3 linked regions of the Homo sapiens genome follow. The protein of the gene in region 2 interacts with the protein of the main gene of each other region in a pairwise test. Each region holds a gene or a part of one and is shown on either strand. Other genes may lie near its edges.

Region 1 (7,026 bases), on a different chromosome or scaffold from region 2:
AAAAGACAGGAAAAAAAAAAAAAAGCCAGGCACGGTGGCTCACCCTATAATCCTGACACTTTGGGAGGCCGAGGCAGGCGGATCACCTGATGTCAGGAGTTCGAGACCAGCCTGGCCAACATGGTGAAACCCCCGTCTAGACTAAAAATACAAAAATTAGCCGGGCGTGGTGGCGGGCACCTGTAATCCCAGCTACTCTGGAGGCTGAGGCAGGAGAATCGCTTGAACCCGAGAGGCAGAGGTTGCAGTGAGCCGAGATCGCGCCGTTGCACTCCAGCCTGGGGTACAACAGCGAGACTTTGTCTCAAGAAAAACAAAAACAAACAAAAAAACCCCCACAGTTTATTAATCTGCCTTATTGTCCTTTGCCTTTTAAAAATATAAGATAAGCCTGTTTAAGGCTTTACTGGGAGGCAGCTGTCAGTCAGCCAGCTGTTCTGGAGTCAGTCCAGGGCAAAGGCTGCTGTAGGAACAGCATTAGCACAACTTTGCCTATTTATCCTTAACCAGAGCAGGTTTACAAGGATGCCTATACCATGAACACCTGCACGCATCTCAGTCCGCCCACCTGGAGGTCAGACACACTAAGAGGCAGCTGGACCAGCTCCCTGTTCAAGGCCACTTCAGATTCTATGTGAGTTACAGTGCCCTTGTCTTAAAGTATTTTCATAAATGTGAATTAAGCAGTGCTCACACCAGGGAGAAGGATGCTGTGAGTCTGTCTGTTGGTCTGCTGGTGACAATCAGTTAGGGTTACCCAACCTGGCGGGATGATGCAAGAGAAAACAGCACCAACAGAAACCACATCGTAAGAGGTAATTTTGGGGAAAAAAGGGTAATTTTGTAAATCCTGTGTTGTCACTTTAACATGTATGATGACATTATTTGTGCTTATTCTTCAATATTATACCTTTATACTCGAGAATCTAAAAAACTGTTTAAGACCCACCCTGCATGGCTGTCCTGGGGATTACGGCTAATGCATATTCGGCAACCTTGTCCCAGAACACCTGTTCAACAAACCACGGTTTGCCTCATTTCAGAGTGTTTTGCTATTTGGACACGGGGTATTCTTTTTCATCCCCCACTGCAACCTCCGCTTCCCAGGCTCCAGGGATCCTCCCACCTCAGCCTGACCTCAGCCTCTCGAGTAGCTGGGACCACAGGCATGCACCACCACGCCCAGCTAACTTTTGTATTTTCTGCAGAGATGGGGTTTCCTCATGTTACCCAGGCTGGTCTCAAATTCCTGAACTCGAGAGATCTATCCACCTCAGCCTCCCAAAGTGTTGGGGTTACAGGTGTCAGCCACTGCACCTGCCCAAATTTTTGTATTTTTAGTAGAGACGTGGTTTCGCCATGTTGGCCAGGCTAGTCTCAAACTCCTGGCCTCATGTAATCTGCTTGCCTTGGCCTCCCAAAGCACTGGGATTACAGGCTTAAACCACTAAGCCTGGCCAAAAATGTTTTTAATTTTTTAAAAATTTCTATACGAAGAGCCTTATTAAAAGTTTGAGATGGGCCGAGCGCAGTGGCTCACACCTGTAATCCCAGCACTTTGGGAGGCCAAGGTGCGCAGACCATGAGGTCAAGAGATCGAGATCATCCTGGCCAACATGGTGAAACCCCGTCTCTACTAAAAAATACAAAAATCAGCCGGGCGTAGTGGCGCATGCCTGTAGTCCCAGCTGCTACAGAGGCTGAGGCAGGAGAATCGCTTGAACCCAGGAGGCGGAGGTTGCAGTGTGCCAAGATCGCACCACTGCTCTCCAGTCTGGTGACAGAGACTCCATCTCAAAAAAGAGAGTTTGAGGTGAGTCAGTGAGGTGGTGCGTGCCTACAATCTCAGTTACTGAGGGTTAGGGTGATTCTAATCTACTGAGACTGTAGGCATGCACCACCTTGGGAGGCTGAGGCAGGAGGATCGAGCCCAGGAAGGCCAACCTGGGCAACATGTGGAGGCCCCATCTCTACAAAAATTAAAACATTAGTCAACTGTGGTGACACATACCTAAAGTCCCAGCTACTTGGGAGGCTGAGATAGGAGGATTGCTTGGGCCTGGGAGAATGCAGTGAGCTAAGACTGTGTCACTCCTCTCTAACTTGGGTGAGAGACAGAGTGACACCCTGTTGTAAAAAAAACAGGATGTGGCAGGGCGCGGTGGCTCACGCCTCTAATCCCAGCACTTTGGGAGGCCGAGGTGGGCAGATCACGAGGTCAGGAGATCGAGACCATCCTGGCTAACACGATGAAATCCCGTCTCTACTAAAAATACAAAAAACATTAGCTGGGCGTGGCGGCGGGTGCCTGTAGTCCCAGCTACTCGGGAGGCTGAGGCAGGAGAATGGCATGAACCCAGGTGGCAGAGCTTGCAGTGAGCCGAGACTGAGTCACTGCACTCCAGCCTGGGCGACAGAGCAAGACTCTGTCTCAAAAAAAAAAAAAAAAAACAAGATGAGGCCAGGTGCGTTGGCTCACGCCTGTAATCCCAGCACTTTGGGAGGCCGAGGTGAGTGGATCACCTGAGGTTGGGAGGTCGAGACCAGCCTGACCAACATGGAGAAACCCCATCTCTACTAAAAATACAAAATTAGCTGGGTGTGGTGGCACACGCCTGTAATCCCAGCTACTCAGGAGGCTGAGGCTGGAGAATCACTTGAACCCAGAAGGCAGAGGTTGCGGTGAGCCAAGATCACACCGTTGCACTCCACCAGCCTGGGAAACAAGAGTGAAACTCCGTCTCAAAAAAAAAAAAAAAAAAAAAAAAGATGAGGCCAGGAGCAGTGGCTCACGCCTGTAATCCCAGCACTTTCGGAGGCCGAGCTGGGCGGATCACAAGGTCAGGAGATCGAGACCATCCTGGCTAACACGGTGAAACCCCATCTCTACTAAAAATACGAAAAATTAGCCGGGCGTGGTGGCGGGCGCCTGTAGTCCCAGCTACTCGGGAGGCTGAGGCAGGGGAATGGCGTGAACCCGGGAGGCGGAGCTTGCAGTGAGCCGAGATCGCGTCACTGCACTCCAGCCTGGGCGACAGCACAAGACTCTGTCCCCCACCCAAAAAAAAAAAGCATTATTATTTTAAAGAACACATCAAGAAAGAACTAACAAAATTTATTGCGACTGGCAAAAATGTAAAATCTCAGATTTTAACAGCTAGTCCTATCGCAGCAGCTAAAAGAACACCAAAGTGCTGTGGTAAAAGGCCCCGCAAGCAAAGGGGAAAGACAGACACCATCTGAGGGCTACGAACTTGGCAAGAGATGACAGAAGCTACAGTCTGTACTCCTGGACCCAGAATTTCCTTCGTTATTTGTCTTAGGGAAACCTTCTTACAATAAAACACAATCCTATTTAATAAAGAAAAATCCGATGGGACTGCTCAGCAAAGATCCAAACATTCGCTCTGCTGCTAATCCCTCCCAATAACAGGAGGAGCAAAATAAAAGCCAGGCAGGGCCGCACACTCCACACACTCCCTCTGCTGAGCTGCAGTCACTCCTCCCGTCAGGCACCTGCAGCCTCGTCCGGGGTAGAGGCCTCTGGCCTGGGCTCGCCTCCACTCTGAGACTGATGTGGAGCGCGCGGACGCAGCCTCTGGCACCTGAATTCAGCTCCTGCTTCTTCAAGGGTCAAGAGTAAGACGGGATATTTTCGTTCTGCAGTTTCACTAGAACACATTTCCACCCTACCTGGTGAAAAAATAGAGGCACAGGGCAGGGAGAGCTCTCCCCGAAGTCAGCCGCGCTCTAGAGACAGCAAGGAGGGCAGGGCACAGCCGATGGGGCTGGGAAGTCGATTCCATCTTCCGACCTGCCAGCATCATGATTTCATAACAGGCACAGAATGCCTCAGAACGCAGATTGAGCACAGTGGCTCATGCCTGTAAACCCAGCACCTTGGGAGGCCAAGGTGGGTTGATTACTTGAGTTCAGGAGTTTGAGACCAGCCTGGACAACATGGTGAAACCCCATCTCTACTAAAAATACAAAAATTAGCTGGGCGTGGTGGCACACGCCTGTAATTCCAGTTACTCAAGAGGCTGAGGCAGAAGAATCACTTGAACCCGGGAGGTGGAAGCGGCAGTGAGACACGATCGTGCCACTGCACTCCAGCCTGGATGACAGAGCGAGACTCCGTCTCAAACAAACAAAGAATCCCTGGACACAGCAATGCAGACACTACATGGCTCTGGACACTTCACCTCGTAAATGATTATTTCTGCTGGTGATACATGTTCAATGTAGAATATTTAAAGGGACAATACAATTATAAACCCATGAAAAATAAGATTCATTCACATCCATATTCAAGGAATCTTCACTAAGCACTCACAACACAACACAAAAATTTAAAAATGTCACTCAGGTTTAATATGTCAAGAATAAATGACAAAGTTCTCTGTCATAGAAATAAGTTTTTTGAAACCATTCATGCAAAATGTAGAATGATGTTGCAACAAAGTTAAATTGTGGCATATGCAGGTCTGTCCTGAGGAGGAAATTATTGATCAATACAGAACTTCCTTTTTTTTTTTTTTTTTTTTTTTGAGACAGTGTCTTGCTCTGTCGCCCAGGCTGGAGTGCAGTGGAGCAATCATGGCTTGCTGCAGCCTCAGCCTCCCAGGCTCAGGTGATCCTACCACCTCAGCCTCCGAGTAGCTGGGACTACAGCTGCATGTCACCATACCCGGCTAATTGTTTCTAGTTTTAGTACAGATGGGGTTTTGCTATGTTGCCCAGCCTGGTCTTCACTTCTGGACTCTAGCAATCCGCCTGCCTCGGCCTCTCAAAGTGCTGGGATTACAGGCATGAGCCACTGCACCAGCCCAGAATTTTCAGAGACATGTCCCAAACCTGGTCTAAGTACTTCTTTCTTTAGAAAATGAGATGCTGGTTGGACGATCACTTGAGTCCAGGAGCTCAAGACCAACTTGGGGCTGGGCTCAGTGGCTCACGCCTATAATCCCAGCACTTTGGGAGGCCAAAGTGGGTGGATCACCTGAGGTCAGGAGTTCAAGACCAGCCTGGCCAACATGGCAAAACCCCATCTCTACTAAAAATACAAAAATTAGCCGGGTGTCATGGCAGGCGCCTGTAATCCCAGCAACCCAGGAGGCTGAGGCAGGAGAATCACTTGAACCTAGGAGGCAGAGGTTGCCATGAGCGGAAACCGTACCGTTGTACTCAAGCCTGGGTGACAGAGTGAGACTCCGTCCCCCAACCAAAAAAAAAAAAAAAAAAAAGCCCAGGCGCAGTGGCTCACACCTGCAATCCCAGCACTTTGGGAGGCCAAGATGGGCGGATCACAAGGTCAGGAGATCGAGACCATCCTGGCTAACACCGCGAAACCCTGTCTCTACTAAAAATACAAAAAATTAGCCTGGCGTGGTGGCGACCGCCTGTAGTCCCAGCTACTCGGGAGGCTGAGGCAGAAGAATCACTTGAACCCAGGAGGCAGAGGTTGCAGTGAGCCAAGGTCACGCCACCGCACTCCAGCCTGGGTGAGAGAATGAGACTCCGTCTCAAAAAAACAAAAGAAAATGAAATGCTGTCCTAATTTCTGCAATTTCAATTTGAAATATCAATGCTTGCAAAACTCATACAAGTTAAAACAATTTTTATTTCTAATGACCTGTATCTATTAAATGTCTGTGATGTACCAAGAATAAAGCAGAACACACTTCCTCATTAACACACATGCACCCAAAGTTAATGCAAAGGGTGATGAGAGACAAAATCTACACTCAAGGTTGTTGGGTAATCTAATCCTTAAATCTTCTGGGTTGAACTGCCTGTGACTGATAACAGACTAGCTGCTAATCCTCTTCAGGGATGTCATTATCTGAGGGGTCCTGGCATGGCAGTCCCAGCTCCTAGATTAGGGGTGGCATTTTCATAAAACAAGACTATTACTGTTTTTCAGCCTCTTTGTCCCTTCTATTTAGGAAGCAGGTGATGAGACACCTTTCATTTACTGCCTCCTTTTTTCTCCCAGCAGGACGCAGGGGAAGCACCACTACCCTCATCTGACAGAACGCAGAGGCTCAGAGTCACAGCGGCCCCAGTCACGTGAGCCCTGATCTTGTCCTCTTTCACGAAGGAAGGCCTAGCACAGATTCTGCTGCCACAGTGGGAAGGCCTATGGCGGGGCAGGAGGTGTGTCTGACAGAAGACGGTGCTTCTTGGACACATCTCAGGACTTTGTGGCACGAGAACGTTCTAATCAGAACATCACGATGAGTCTCACCTTAGAAGCACTGCAGTTTGTTTGTTTGTTTGTTGTGAGAGGGAGTCTCGCTCTGTCGCCCAGGCTGGAGTGCAGTGGTGCTATCTCAGCTCACTGCAACCTCTGCCTCCCGGGTTCAAGCAATTCTCCTGCCTCAGCCTCCCTAGTAGCTGGAATTACAGGTGCCCGCCACCACACCCAGCTATTTTTGTATTTTTAGTAGAGACAGGGTTTCACCATGTTGGCCAGGATGGTCTCGATCTCTCGATCTCAAGATCTGCCCGCCTCGGCCTCCCAAAGTGCTGGGATTACTGGTGTGAGCCACCGTGCCCGGCCTAGAAGCACTCATTCTAACTGCCCACTTGGAGATAACTGGAGTGTTAAGGGTCTCTTCTCTATGTCTTGTGCAGGGCTAGCCACCATGTTCCATTTCTCTACAAATGGCTTTTTCCAACCCAGCCCGAGGACCCAGGGGTCTGTTTCCTTCCTGGAGAAATACTGCTTTCATTTGCTGTTACAGTTTACCTGCAGCATTACATACTCCTAACTGGGTATCACATTCACCTTACTGCCTGATTTCAGAAGCAAACTCCACCTCAGATAAAATTCTACCTTATCATGACTCCCCGCCCCACTGCATTTTAGTCATTCATTCAACAAACACCAACTGCTAACCCCAGGCACACACGTGAGCACCTCACATCTGGGCTCTAAGGATAAAACCACCAGCACCTTGTACAGGGCTCTTCCTGGTGATGCCAAATACTTAGAAGAAACCTGGTCTAGAGAAGACTCGA
Region 2 (7,026 bases):
TTTCTGTCTTTCATGACATTAACATTTGTCTCGTAGAATTTCCCACAATCTGAATTTGTCGGATTGTTTTTTCATAATTATTTTCAGATTAAACCTTTTTTTGGCAACAGTATTCATACATGACCTTGAGTCCTTCTGTGCACAGCATAGCAGGAGGCACATGATGTTCTTTCTTTCTTTCTTTTTTTGAGACGGAGTCTCACTCTGTCGCCCAGGCTGGAGTGCAGTGGCGCGATCTCGTCTTACTGCAACCTCCGCCTCCCGGGTTCAAGCAATTCTCCTGCCTCAGCCTCCCGAGTAGTTGGGACTACAAGCACGTGCTACCATGCCTGGTTATTTTTTGTATTTTTTGGTGGAGACAAGGTTTCACCATGTTGGCCAGGCTGGTCTGGAACTCCTGACCTCAAGTGATCCGCCTCGGCCTCCCTTTTTTTTTTTTTTTTTTTTTGCTTTGTTTTTTTGAGATGGAGTCTAGCTCTGTCACCCGGGCTGGAGTAGAGTGGCGTGCTCTCGGCTCACTGAAACCTCCGCCTCCCGGGTTCAAGCTATTCTCCTGCCCCAGCCTCTGGAGTAGCTGGGATTACAGGCGCCCGCCACCACACCCAGTTAATTTTTTGTATTTTTAGTATAGACAGGGTTTCACTGTGTTGGCCAGGCTGGTCTCGAACTCCTGACCTTGTGATCCTCCTGCCTCGGCCTCCCAAAGTGCTAGGATTACAGATGTGAGCCACTGAGCCAGGCCCTCCCTCTCTTTTAAAAAATAAAATAATAATGTCACTTTGGACTCATGGATTAATAATAAAAAAAATCTATGTGGGCCGGGCACTGTGGCTCATACCTGTAATCCCAGCACTTTGGGAGGCTGAGGTGGGTGGATGGCTTGAGGCCAGGAGTTCAAGACTAGCCTGGCCAACATGGTGAAACCCTGTCTCTACTAAAAATACAACAATTGGCCGGGCACTGTGGCTCATGCCTGTAATCCCAGCACTTTGGGAGGCCAAGGCAGGTGGATCACGAGGTCAAGAGATCGAGACTATCCTGGCTAACACGGTGAAACCCCGTTTCTACTAAAAAAATACAAAAAAATTCGCCAGGTGTGGTGGCGGGCACCTGTAGTCCCAGCTACTGGGGAGGCTGAGGCAGGAGAGAGGCAGAGCTTGCAGTGAGCCGAGATCACGCCGCTGCACTCTGGCCTGGGTGACAGAGCGAGACTCCATCTCAAAAAAAAAAAAAAACAATTAGCTGGGTGTGGTGGCGGGTGCCTGTAATCCCAGCTACTCGGGAGGCTGAAGCAAAAGAATCACTTGAACCCAGGAGGCGGAGGTTGCAGTGAGCTGAGATCATGCTGCTGCACTCCAGCCTGGGCAACAGAGCGCGACTCTGTCTCAAGAAAAAAAAGAGAGAAAAAAATCCACGTGGTTATTACTTTTGATAGTCTAATTGTCCCAAATTTGGTTGGTGGTAGCCCTTTCAGACTGGTTCTTGTGTCCTTTTGACTTGCCTCCATTAGTTATTGAGTACTTTCTTCTTTATGATACCACAAGATGTTCCAGGCTAACCTTGTATTTCCTTTTCCTGGCTTGGGACCAGCCATATATATTTTTAAAATTCTGTGTTCATACTGATACCTCCGCTTTGAATCCAACACCACAAGGCTCTTTCTTACCTTTCCGCGGTCTGAATTGTATCTCCTACAGTGAGAAACCACCTTCCCCAAATAATCAGCACACTGATTCATTTGCCCTCTCCTGTAGTATACGGGCAAAGCTTTAGAGTCGTCACAGCAGTACCAGCAGTAAGAGTAAACTTGCTAAAATTCATGACTTGTTTGCAGTTTCTTTTTCTTTTTTTGAGACAGGGTCTTGCTCTGCCGCCCGGGCTGGAGTGCAGTGGCGCAATCACACTTCATTGCAGCCTCGACTTCCTGAGCTCAAGTGATCCTCCCACCTCAGCCTCATGAGAAGCTGGGACTACAGGCGCACATCACCATGTCCCGCTAATGTTTTTTTTTGTTTTGTTTTTGTTTTTTTGAGACGGAGTCTTGCTCTGTCGCCGGGCTGGAGGGCAGTGGCACGATCTCGGCTCACTGCAACCTCTGCCTCCCAGGTTCAATCAATTCTCCTGCTTCAACCTCCCGAGTAGCTGGAACTACAGGCACATGCCACCACGCCCAGGTAATTTTTGTATTTTTAGTAGAGAACAGGGTTTCACCATATTGGCCAGGATGGTCTTGATCTCTTGACCTGGTGATCTACCCGCCTCGGCTTCCCAAAGTGCTGGGATTACAGGCGTGAGCTACCATGCCTGGCCATGTTTGTATTTTTTGTAGAGACGGGGGTCTTGCTGTGTTACCCAGGCTGGTCTCGAACTCCTGGGCCCAAGCGATCCATCTGCCTTGGTGTCTCAAAGTGCTGGAATTCCAGTCATGAACCACTGCACCCGGCCTGTTTGCAGTTATTTTTGCCCTTGAGGTTTATCTTTCTAGGAGAACATAGGAGAACCCAGAATTACTGTGATCAAAAGTTACTTGGGCTCTTTTTTTTTTCTTGTCTGTGAGATTGTTATCAATTTAAAGTATAGTTAGCTTGATTTGTTTTTGTTTCAGTTTTAGAGTTTGCTTTTCTTTTTGGTTTAAGTTTTTGAAATATGGAAGTCATTTTATGTGTACAAGTATATTAAAAAAACTTATTAATAAGTATATAAAGAATGGAAGTCTCTCTACTCATCGTAGCCCTTCCGTTATGTAGGTGACTATTTCATTACTTTCTGGTTGATTCTTCCTGTGTTTCTTTTGCAAAAATAAGCAAATTCATATGTGCATTCTTACTTCCCCTTTCTTACATAAGGGGTAGCATATGATTTACACTTTTTGTGCTCTGCTTTTTTTTTTTTACTTAATATATCCTGGAAAGCATTCCACAGCAGTTTACTGAGCTCATCTTTATTCTTTTTTTTTTTTTTTTGAGACATGGTTTCACTCTGTCACCCAGGCTGGAGTGCAGCAGCGAAATCTTGGCTCACTGCAACCTCCGCCTCCTGGGTTCAAGCGATTCTCCCACCTCAGCCTCCTGAGTAGTTGGGATTACAGGCTTATGCCATCATGCCTGGCTAATTTTTGTATTTTTTTGGTAGAGATGGGGTTTCACCATGTTGGCCAGGCTGGTCTCAAACTCCTGACCTCAAGTGATCCTCCTGCCTTCGCCTCTGAAAGTGCTGGGATTACAGGTGTGAGTCACCATGGCTGGCATCTTTTTTACATCTGTGTAATACTCTATTGTATGATGCACCTCGTATATTCAAATAGTCACATTTAGGTTGCTTTAAGCATTTTGCTAATGCAAATAGTGTCATGTCGAATAACGTGTGTGTTTGTCATTTCTTATATCTGGGTAAATGACTAACAGGAGCAGGATTATTAGGTTAAAAGGAAAATATATTCTTATTATCTTCTCTTCCTTTTTTTTAATATGAAAAGTATAACATACAGACTGTTGTACATCTTGCTTTTTTTAACTACTCATCTTTTTGGAGACTTTTGCATATCAGTACCCAGAGAACTGCTTCCTCTTTTTAAAATTTTTAACAGCTGCAAAGCATTTTTAAAAATAGCTGCGGAACAGTCCATTGTATGACTACCATTGGTTTAATCAGTCCCCTATTGATGGTTTCTAATCCTTTGTTATTCAAAACAGTGCCGCAATTAATGCACCTGTGTATGGGTATCATTTCCTGATTGTCTCTATCATACCCTTCTCTTCTCTTTTTGTGGTAGATGTTACTGGGTTTTTGTATCTGTATTTGATCCCATATCACAAAAGAGTCCGAAGATTGTAATTGCCCGATCTTTTAATCAGGTCCAGAAGAATTTGACTGGAATGCTAGAAGTTTGTGTGTGTGTGTGTGTGTGTGTGTGTGTGTGTGTGTGTGTGCTTTTTTTCCTTTGAGACAGTCTTGCTCTGTTGCCCAGGCTGGAGTGCAGTGGTGCAATCATGGCTCACTGCAGCCTCTACCTCCTGGACTCAAGCAATCCTCCCACTTCAGCCTCCTGAGGAACTGGGACTACAGGCACGCACCATCGTGCCTGCCTAATTTTTTATTTTTTGTAGAGATGGAGTCTCACTGTGTTGGCCAGACTGGTCTTGAACTACTGGGCTCAAGTGATCCTCCTGCCTCGGACTCCCAAAATGCTGGGATTACAGGTGTGAGCCACTATGCCCAGCCTGAAGTTTTTATTTTAAAGCAAACTTCTCATGGAAGTCTAACACACAGGAGATTGCACAAGTTGTAACTGTATGCTTGGAGAATGTTCACAAAATCCATACCTTTGTGTATCCAGAACCCCGACCAAGAACAGATGCCGGGCCCCCAGTCGCTGCCCCATCAAGGGTAATACTATCTTGACTTCTAACACCATAGATTTAGTTTTTCCTGTTCCAAAACTTTAAGCAAATTTCTGCCCAGCTTTTAAATGTTGCATTGCCTTAGCACTTGGTTGTGGACCATTTTCTGCTGTTGACTATATAAATGTCCACCAAAGTCACTGTTCTAACAAGGTGATTGCTGCTTGGTTTCCTTGGCCTTAACTTGCCAGTGATTACTTAGCATGGGTCAGCCAGGCCTCCTGCTGAACTCCCAGGAGCAGAGCATGTTTGTACCCTCCAGATTCCTATAAGACGCCCTGTCCAGGTGTCCCCCAGCGTCTCTACCCTGTATGTCCCTAGCACAGCTGCTCGTCCTCCCCTGGAACCTCCGCCTCATCTCACACAGGCTTGTCATGATGGGTCTCCACCATCCACTCGGGGTTAAGTGGGCAGGGAGTCTTCCAATTGCTCCCTTTCCCCTACTCCTTAAAACCAAGACCCCTTCAAACTTGTCTCCTAAGGGTCTCAGGAAGCACATCCTGCCCACCTTGCCTTTCCAGCCTCATCTGCTGCCCCCTCATTTGCACTCTGCTTTGGCCATAGTGGCTTTCTTTCCCTTATGATGGGTGGCTCATGCCTATAATCCCAGTGCTTTGGGAGTCCAAAGCGGGAAGATTGCTTGAGGCCAGGAATTTGAGACCAGCTGTGCAACACAGCAAGACCTCCTCTCTACAAAATATTAAAAAATTAGCATGGTAGTCTGTCCCTGTAGTCTAGCTACTCAAGAGGCTGAGGCAGGAGGATGGCTTGAGCCCAGGAGTGCCACTTTACTCCAGCCTGGGTGACAGAGTGAGACCCTGTCTAAGAAAAAAAAAAATGTGAAGCTCCTTCCTAGTAAGGAACTGTCCCTGTACGATGCTTTCCCATCTGCCTAGAAGGCTGTTTTGCCCGGGGAACTCCTCTTCATGCTTCAGGTTTTTACTACCACTTGTATTTAATTTCCCTGAGGCTGGGTGCAGTGGCTCATGCCTGTAATCCTACCACTTTGGGAGGCTGAAGCAGGTGGATTGCTTGAGCCTAGGAATTCAAATTAGCCTGGGCGATATGGCGAAACTTAATCTCTACAAAAAAATATAAAAATTAGCTGGGCCTGGTGGTGCATGCCTGTAGTTCCAGCTACTCAGGAGGCTGCGCTTGGAGGATCACCTGAGCCTGGGGAGGCTGAGGCTGCCGTGAGCTGGGATTATACCACTGCACTCCAGCCTGGGCAACAGAGAGAGACCCTGTCTCAAAAAAAGTTTTTTAATTAAAAAAATTTAATTTCCCTGCCTCTCCAGACCAGATTAGATCACCAGGACATGATGTGTATGTTTTCACGGTGGCTGTGCTTGCCTTTTGTATGATTTACTGCAGAGGTGATTGACTGTTTCATGGGGAGAGCAGGGACCACATCTGTCTCACTCATTCTTCCAGCACCATATAAGTGTCCTAATAAATGAACAAAGGCAAAAGGAGCAAAGGGAGGCTAGCCTGTGACCAAGGCCGAGGCTCAGTCTGTAATTCAAGGTCAAGGAATAGAATGTCACTTGGCTTTCCCTGTATGGGATCCCCTCCCAGGTTCCTTTCCTACCCTTGGATGGGGTTTTCAGAGAGTAGATTTTGTGCCTTGAAGCAGAGGGCGGGAGCAGCTGGTAAGATGCAGCTGGTGGAAGGGTGGCTCTGGGAGGAGGGGAGCTGCCTCCATTGCATTCACGGCACTGTGGGAGTATGTGCTGGGTCCTGTCCTGGGGAGCTTGCAGCCCAGATGAGGAGTAGAGAGGGACTGGGTTGGGTGTGGCCCTGATCTCATCCTTCTCTGGCTTTTCTTTCCTTGCAGTTCAGGACAAAGAGGTGTGGGCAGGCCACTGGGCCAGCTGGTAACATCATGGCAGGTAAGGAGAGGGGCAGGCTGTGTGGGTAGGACATGACAGTGAGCATAGCGTGGATGGCCCTCTTCCTGGTTCCCTTATCTCCCCTAGTCTTTGGAGGCCAGGTTCTTTCCATCTTACTGTCCCCAAGCTTTCCCCACTCTCTCCACTGAGGCCTGTCTGAGAACTTCAACATGACATTGTCTAGCCCTCTGTCAGATCTTTGGTCCTATGGACCAGGAATTGAGCACCTTGATGTCCTTGTCTTACTGTCCATCTGCCTGATTAGCTGCATGAGTGGCTCAGCCCTCCTCCCCTCTGTCTCTATTGCTTTCTAATACTCTGAGGCCTTTTTTATCTGGTTCAGAAGGCTCAGAGGTGTAGAATGCCAGAGCTGGAGGGAACTTTAGGGACCGTGTAGCCCAGCCCCCACTCCAGCAAATAAACTGAGGTCTAGAGAGGGGCGATGATTTGCCCCAGAGCACAAATGCTGAGTGGAGGCTGGAACCCACGTCTGTAGATTCTCACACATCCGCTTCTTCTGCCTGGAGCTGCCCCCACTGAGAGGGTGGTACCTTGAGGCCCTGAGACAGTGTCACTCAGAATTAAAAAATAATAAATGCTGTCTGTCAAGGTGACATTGTTTTTTATTCTGAGTGACACTGTCTCAGGGCCTTTGGCTACTTTGGGATCATCACAGCTGACCCGGGGAGGTAGGGACGGCTGGGTGGGGAAAGCAGAGTGGCCGGTGGCCACAG
Region 3 (7,026 bases), on a different chromosome or scaffold from region 2:
AGGGCTCACTCTTGGCCAGTCACCCAAAGTCCATAGTTACATTAGGGCTCACTCTTGGCCTTGAACAGTCATTGGGTTTTAACAAATGTGTAAGGACATGATTTTGCTTTACAGCGTCATATGGAGTTGTTCCACTGCCCTGAAAATCCTCTGTGCTCCACCCACTCATTCCTTCCTGCCTGCTGACCCCTGGCAACCACTGATCTTTTATTCTTTCTATAGTCTTGCCCTTTCCAGAATGTTACATATTGGGAATCATACAGTATATAGGATTTTCAGATTTGCTTCCTTTGCTTAGCAATATACGTCCCAGCTTCCTCCATGTCTTTTCATGGCTTCATAAAGCATTTCTTTTTAGCACTAAATAATATTCCATTGTCAGAATGTATCTGTTCAGCCCCTCACCTACACAAGGACATCTTAGCTGATTCTAAATTTTCGCAGTTAGCAGTAAAGCTGCTAAAACATCCATGTACAGGTTTTAGTGTGGACGTAAGTTTTCAACTCCTTTTGGTAAATCAACAAGGTTGCAATTGCTTGATCATATGGTAAGAGTATGTTTAGCTTTGTAAGAAACCGCCAGGCTGTCTTCTGAAGTGCCTGTGCCATTTTGCATTCCCACCTGCAGTGAATGGGAGCTCCTGTTGCTCCACATCCTCCTCAGCATATGCTGGTGTTAGTGCTCTGGGTTTTGGCCATTCTAATAGGTGAGGTCCAGGTTACTTCTTATTTCTTTCATGGATTGTGTCTTTGGTGTTGTATCTAAAAAGTCATTGCCAAACTCAAGGTCCCTTAGATTCTCTCCTGTGTTATCTTCTAGGAGTTTCATAGTTTTGCATTTTACATTTAGGTCTGTGTTCCATTTTTGGGTCAGTTTTTTTTAAAAGAGGGTAAAGTCTGTGTCCAGCTTCCTTTTATTGCATATGGATGTGCAGTTGTTCCAGCATCATTTGTTGAAAACACTCTTTTCTCCACCTGTTTTGGTAGGTGCATGTTTTTGGGATTTTATATTTATGTGTAACTTACATAAAATTTGAGACATCAATATTATAATCAATTTCTAGGATACTCATTTCTTTTGTACTTCCATGAAAAGTTTAATGTTCAGGTTGAGTCTTTACATTGCTACTACTAAGGTAACATAACCCTGTTTGAAAAAACCAAAATCTCAATGTCTCATCTGTGACAGGATCGTCTTAGCTGTATTACTGTATTTTTCAATATTACTTTCTTTTCTTTTTAAGACAGAGTCTCACCCAGTCTGTTGCTCAGGCTGGAGTAGAGTGGTGCCATTGGCTTACTACAACCTCTGCCTCCTGGGTTCAAGCCATTCTCCTGCCTCAGCCTCCCTAGTAGCTGGGACTGCAGGCGCCCACCACGACGACGCCTGGCTAAATTTTTTTGTATTTTTTAGTAGAGACAGGGTTTCACCATGTTGGCCAGGCTGGTCTTGAACTCCTGACCTCAAGAGATCCGCCCACCTCGGCCTCCCAAAGTGCTGGGATTATAGGCGTGAGCCACCGCGCCCGGTGGTGTTTTCTCTATCATAAACATTAACTATTCTTGGTGATCTCACACAAGTTCTTCAGAAGGCATATCAGCTTTGAAAGTAACACTTCAAATATACCATCTCATGTGTAACAGTACTTTTTTTGTTCCTTTTTTAATTCATCATTTTTTGTTTTTCCAAATTTTAGACATTCTTTTTCTCCTTTCACCTAAAAAGCAGCCTTTCTATCTGCTGGTTGACTCAGGGATTGATTTTGTATTTCTGGCCGTTGGTGAACAGATCCCTGCATTTCTGTCATGATGTGGTTGCTCCTGCCCAGCAGTCAGCAAACTGGTCCATACGCTGAAAATGGTTTTTACATTTTTTAAATATTGCTTAAAAAAGAGAAGAGGAATATGCAGGAGAAATAATACATAGCCCACAAATCCTAAAATATGTATCATCTTGTCAACCCCAGTTTGCCAATCCCAAATCACTTTTCCTTGTTTTCTGCTTTTGATGTATATATTATTGGGTTTGAGCTGCCTTATTATGCTGTATGGTTGGTAGGAAATGGCGGCGGAGGAGAAATGGTTTTCTGAATATGAGGCATATTTATAGGAAGATTGAAACATTTTGTGATCTTTACCTTTTGACACATTTCTTAAAATGTTGCTATGAAAACTGAAAATCTGTCAATTATTAATAATTGTCAGAAGTCTTTAAAAATTGATAAAACTATCCTTTATAAATTGCTGTATACTTTTATATACTTGAATGTGTGTTTGGTAAATCTTTAAAGTTTGGTAATTCACATAATTGATTATGAGCCAAATGACTCCAATGTCCTACAAGTCCTTGAGGAGTTAGTGTATATATATAACATATATATATATAATATACACTTGGATGGGATTATTTGAAGCTTGTCTTTCTAGGACTGGAGATTTTAACCTGAGATCTGCGGGCTTGGAAAGTTGGTGAACTTCCTAAAATAGTCGGGGGGTAAAGAGGGGAGGAGCAGCTATGGGAAGAGGGTTCATATTTTTCAGTAATTTTTTTTTTCTTTTTTTACATTTTTGTTGTTAAAAAAAAAAAAATTACTATTATTTTGAGACCAGATCTCACTTTGTTGCCCAGGCTGGGGTGCTGTGGTGCAATGATGGCTCACCACAGCCTCGAACTTCCCAGACTCAAGCGATCCTCCCACTTCAGTCCCCCGAGTAGCTGGGACTACAGGCACATGCCACCATGCCAAGCTGATTTTAAAATTTTTCTGTAGAGATGAAGTCTCACTGTGTTGCCCAGGCTGTTCTCGAACTCCTGGCATCAAGCAGCTTTCCTTCCCCGGCTTCCCAAAGTGCTGGAATTACAGGCATGAACCACCACACCCAGCCCGTTTTTTTCAAGAGTTTATGACCCCAAATGGTTAATTACCACTGATCTAGGAGAAAAAATACCTGTCTGTCTTTTTGGTCTGGCTGTTTTTAGAGGGAAGTAAATGAAATATAATGGTGACATTTAAATATCCGAAGGCTGTACAGGTAAATGTAGCTGTAATATTATGTACCTGAATATGGGCGAGAATTTTGTGGGTCACACTTGCCACACTTCACGTGTCCACACTTTTCAGAGTATGTGCTGTTCTGTTTTCCAGATGAGCAGAACTACATTCTCCGAGATGCTGAGGCAGAAGTACTTTTCTCTTTCAGCTTGGAAGAATCCTTAAAACGGGCACACGTTTCTCCACTCTTTAAGGTACACTTTAAGGGAAAAGTAAATCAGTCCAAGTAAGCATAACACACGGACCTGCTCAAGGGAACTACCAGGTGATTTGGTGGGAAGTGCGCCTCCAGGGGAGCTGGGCTCACCCTGCATCCCATTTACCTCTTGGCTTCCTTCTTGGACATTGCCACTGGAGGTCTTCCTCCTGTGAACCACAGCACATCTCTAGAGAACTTTTCTTTACTATAATGTTTAAAAATAAGTACACAAATTTAATAAATACATCTATGAGAAATAAGTTATTCAAAGAATAGGTTTTTGAGTAATTGGTTAAGAGGCATGTTCATTTTTCTGCTTTTAATAAATCTTTAGAGGACATCGCTTACTTCGTACTATTGTCAGTAAATGTATATTCAGCTGGAGAAGATACTTGGGAAAATATTCAGTGTGTGCATAGATATAATTCAGTACTAAAAGATTTTTAAATGTTAGATAAGTGTTAGAACAGCTAGGAATTTTTTTTGTACCAAAGAACTAAGTAAATCAATAAAGATAATCGGTTCTTTAACCTTCTTAAGGAGTCAACAGGAATTAGAAATTATTTGCAGTTTCAGACAGAATAGTATTTTGTGGTATCCTCAGGAGCAATCTTGTTAGATAATTAAATCTTAAGCATCAATATCATTTCCTGCTCTGAGTTCAAATAATATGGAGAAAATAAAGAAAAGGGATATAAGCCAGGCAGCATGCTATGCCAGAGGCTGTTGCTGGGCAGATAAGTGTGGTGAAATATAATGCTGATTTAAAATTGTATAGAAATTGTGAAAAATATTTGTAATATTCTTGCTTATTCACAAAACACTTTGTTTTAGGGACTTAAGTTCTGGTTACTTTAAATCATCTTCAGGCATACTTAACATGTGAAAATGCTTACATTCCAAATTTACATAGCTGGATTCCTCTTCCACTTCAGATTGAGTGCTAGTAGGAGAATAGTACCTTCATAATGTCATAAAATTTGAAATTTTGTCAAAAATCTCAGGGCAGAATCTATGAGAATTATGTACTCTAAAAATTAAAGCATTTTAAGAACATAATACATATATTTTCATTTAATTTTAGGCAAAATATTTTTACATCACACCTGGAATCTGCCCAAGTCTTTCCACTATGAAGGCAATCGTAGAGTGTGCAGGAGGAAAGGTGTTATCCAAGCAGCCATCTTTCCGGAAGCTCATGGAGCACAAGCAGAACTCGGTGGGTAGAGTGGAGTCCGCCAGCGAGTCCGTCATTGCCCTGTATCACATTCAGCGTTCGGTCACTGAGAAACTCATTTTCTTTTCCTTAGAGTTTGTCGGAAATAATTTTAATATCCTGTGAAAATGACCTTCATTTATGCCGAGAATATTTTGCCAGAGGCATAGGTACGTTTCCCCGCTTACCTGTGTGAGTATGTGTGCACGCACAGCAGTGGATCTCTAACTAAAGTGTCTGTTTCCACCCTGTTCAGATGTTCACAATGCAGAGTTCGTTCTGACTGGAGTGCTCACTCAAACGCTGGACTATGAATCATATCCTTTCCAAAAGAGAATTAAAAAGTAGACGGGTTAGATATGAAATGGATTTCCCAGGTTAATAAGGCAGTACCTTTCCTGTTTTGCAAGCCATTTTTCCTTTCTTTGCTATTGTGATTTATGCAGTGAACAATTCTTTTCTCTTCAGAATATTCATTTGAGTTGCTAGTAAAAATATTCTCTTAACTTACTGAGAGTTCAGTTTTAATAGGTGATGTTAATTAGAAAGGATCTATACTGTCTAGTTTATGGAGGTATTAAAGAATTTGACAATTAGATAAAATAGAAAATAATTGCAAAAATAAATATATGTTTCTTTTTATCAGCTCACCTTTGAGTTTGTAGTTTTCCAAATGAAATTTAGTTCGTATATAGTCTTTGTACTCAGGAACTTTGGGATGGGAGATAAATTACTACTAAATGGAAGCGGCAGAATGAATACTTCATCAACATGTCAGGAAAATGCAAAGGTCAGTCTTTAGAATATTGACACCTAGGCTTTTTTCTATTTCAGACATTCAGGAAAAAATAAAGCTCATCATCTGTTATTTGAATTCCTTATTAAAAATCTCTGAATTATTATTTTAATGTAGGAACAGCCTATCAGTGAAGCAAAACATGCCTTACAGGTCCTTATGGGAAAATTCTGTTTCCACTTCCGTTTCCCATTGCAGAGCACCTTCTCTCAGGGCTGTTCTCAGGACTTCTCCCTGGGCCTCCTGCAATGAGGCTGGAGCTCCTCCTCTCTGTGAGGGTGGGAGCCTCTGCCACCTCTGACCAGTGTCAACCTCAGTGGACCTTTCCTTAAGCAGGGGAATTTTGTGTTTGGGATAGGACTGCTTCAGTAAGGCGCAGAGGTCAGAATGATACCCATCCTTGCCGAGTTTTTTTTTCTTCGTGTGTGCCTGTTTCATCCAGGTAATTACATTTAAGTATATTTACATTTAAATACACTGACATTCATCCAGTTAATTACATTTATCAAACATTTTCCTCTTAACGCTAAAGAGCTTATGGTTATAATAGTAGACAGAAGACCTTGATATCACTGAGAGAAAAGCACTTTTAAGAAGTAAAATTTGGCCGGACGTGGTGGCTCATGCCTATAATCCCAGCACGGGAGGCCAAGACAGGTGGATCACCTGAGATCAGGAGTTCGAGACCAGCCTGGCCAACATGGTGAAACCCTGGCTCTACTAAAAATAGAAAAAATTAGCTGGCCATGGTGGCGGGTACCTGTAATCACAGCTACTTGGTGAGGCAGGAGAATCACTTGAACCTGGGAGGCAGGGGTTGCAGTGAGCCAATATCGCGCCATTGCACTACAGCCTGGGCAACAAGAGCGAAACTCTGTCTTTAAAAAAAAAAAAAAAAAAAAAGAAGTAAAATTTGCCTCAGTCCCAGAATCCAATGTCATGTTTAGCCATAAATAAATAGCCTGTCTAGTTGGAATGAGGCTTGGTGCAGAAACGCTCTTACCATTCATACCAGAGCTTGCTGTATTCCATACCGCCATCTATTAGAAAATTATTGTAGGAGCTACTGATAGGAATGATAAGAGGCCTGTTAAATTTTTACAGATATGCTATAAGCATTTGGTTTTTATACAACATGTACTCTTGCATTTTTTCCAGACTTTTTCCTAACATTCATGTTTGTATTTGTGAAAGCCTGTTCTACACTACATTTACTTTCAGAAGAAATTGCTTTAAAAGTCATACAGGAGACTTATGAGTATTACCTTGGGGGCCTTTTTTCATATCCATAGCTTGATGAATTTTGCCCAAAGTGGACGGTTTAGAATTGCAGAGGTCACTACCTGCTCCTGCAGGTATAAGTAGGAGTCAGCTATTTGTGGTGGGGCTTTGGGGATGTCAGCTCTTGGGGGTTGTGTGTTGTACATGTTAATTTAAAGGACATTTCAGCTATTGCTGGGCCTCAGTTCTGGCCGCATGGTGGATACCTTGCGGAGCTGGCACAGGTGCTGATGTCCCCGGGCTGAGTGAGCCTGTGTGTCGGGGCTGAGGGCCTCCTGTGATGTGGGTATGCAGCAGAGCGACTGGTTTGAATGGGTAAGAAAGAGGCTGTAGCATTCCTTCAAGGGTGTCTCTGAAACTGGATGATGAATGTTGGAACCCTTGGTTTCATGTTTTTCTTTTGCCTTGTGTTTGAAAGTCGTTTTCCTCAACAAGCCTACATATAAGTTTAACTGATGGCGTCTAGGCTGCCGTGCATGTC

Evidence for each region.
Region 1: the proteins of SCAMP5 (region 2) and DNAJC5 come close enough for resonance energy transfer, tested with the Homo sapiens proteins (one study listed by BioGRID).
Region 3: the proteins of SCAMP5 (region 2) and PAXIP1 interact in a two-hybrid assay, tested with the Homo sapiens proteins (one study listed by BioGRID).

The regions. Positions count from the first base shown.
Region 1 is NC_000020.11:63,898,101-63,905,126, reverse strand, and holds part of DNAJC5 (dnaJ homolog subfamily C member 5), read right to left. Parts: intron 1-7,026. UniProt on the Homo sapiens protein: Acts as a general chaperone in regulated exocytosis. Acts as a co-chaperone for the SNARE protein SNAP-25. Involved in the calcium-mediated control of a late stage of exocytosis. May have an important role in presynaptic function.
Region 2 is NC_000015.10:75,005,555-75,012,580, forward strand, and holds part of SCAMP5 (secretory carrier-associated membrane protein 5), read left to right. Parts: intron 1-2,106; exon of another isoform or gene 2,107-2,158; coding exon of another isoform or gene 2,159-2,174; intron 2,175-4,336; coding exon of another isoform or gene 4,337-4,386; intron 4,387-6,237; coding exon of another isoform or gene 6,238-6,285; coding exon 6,286-6,292; intron 6,293-7,026. UniProt on the Homo sapiens protein: Required for the calcium-dependent exocytosis of signal sequence-containing cytokines such as CCL5. Probably acts in cooperation with the SNARE machinery.
Region 3 is NC_000007.14:154,944,124-154,951,149, reverse strand, and holds part of PAXIP1 (PAX-interacting protein 1), read left to right. Parts: intron 1-1,659; exon of another isoform or gene 1,660-1,852; intron 1,853-3,059; exon of another isoform or gene 3,060-3,146; coding exon 3,147-3,247; exon of another isoform or gene 3,248-3,252; intron 3,253-3,376; exon of another isoform or gene 3,377-3,457; intron 3,458-4,297; exon of another isoform or gene 4,298-4,336; coding exon 4,337-4,471; exon of another isoform or gene 4,472-4,557; intron 4,558-4,562; coding exon 4,563-4,638; intron 4,639-4,656; exon of another isoform or gene 4,657-4,724; coding exon 4,725-4,785; exon of another isoform or gene 4,786-4,790; intron 4,791-6,529; exon of another isoform or gene 6,530-6,985; coding exon 6,986-7,001; 3' UTR 7,002-7,026.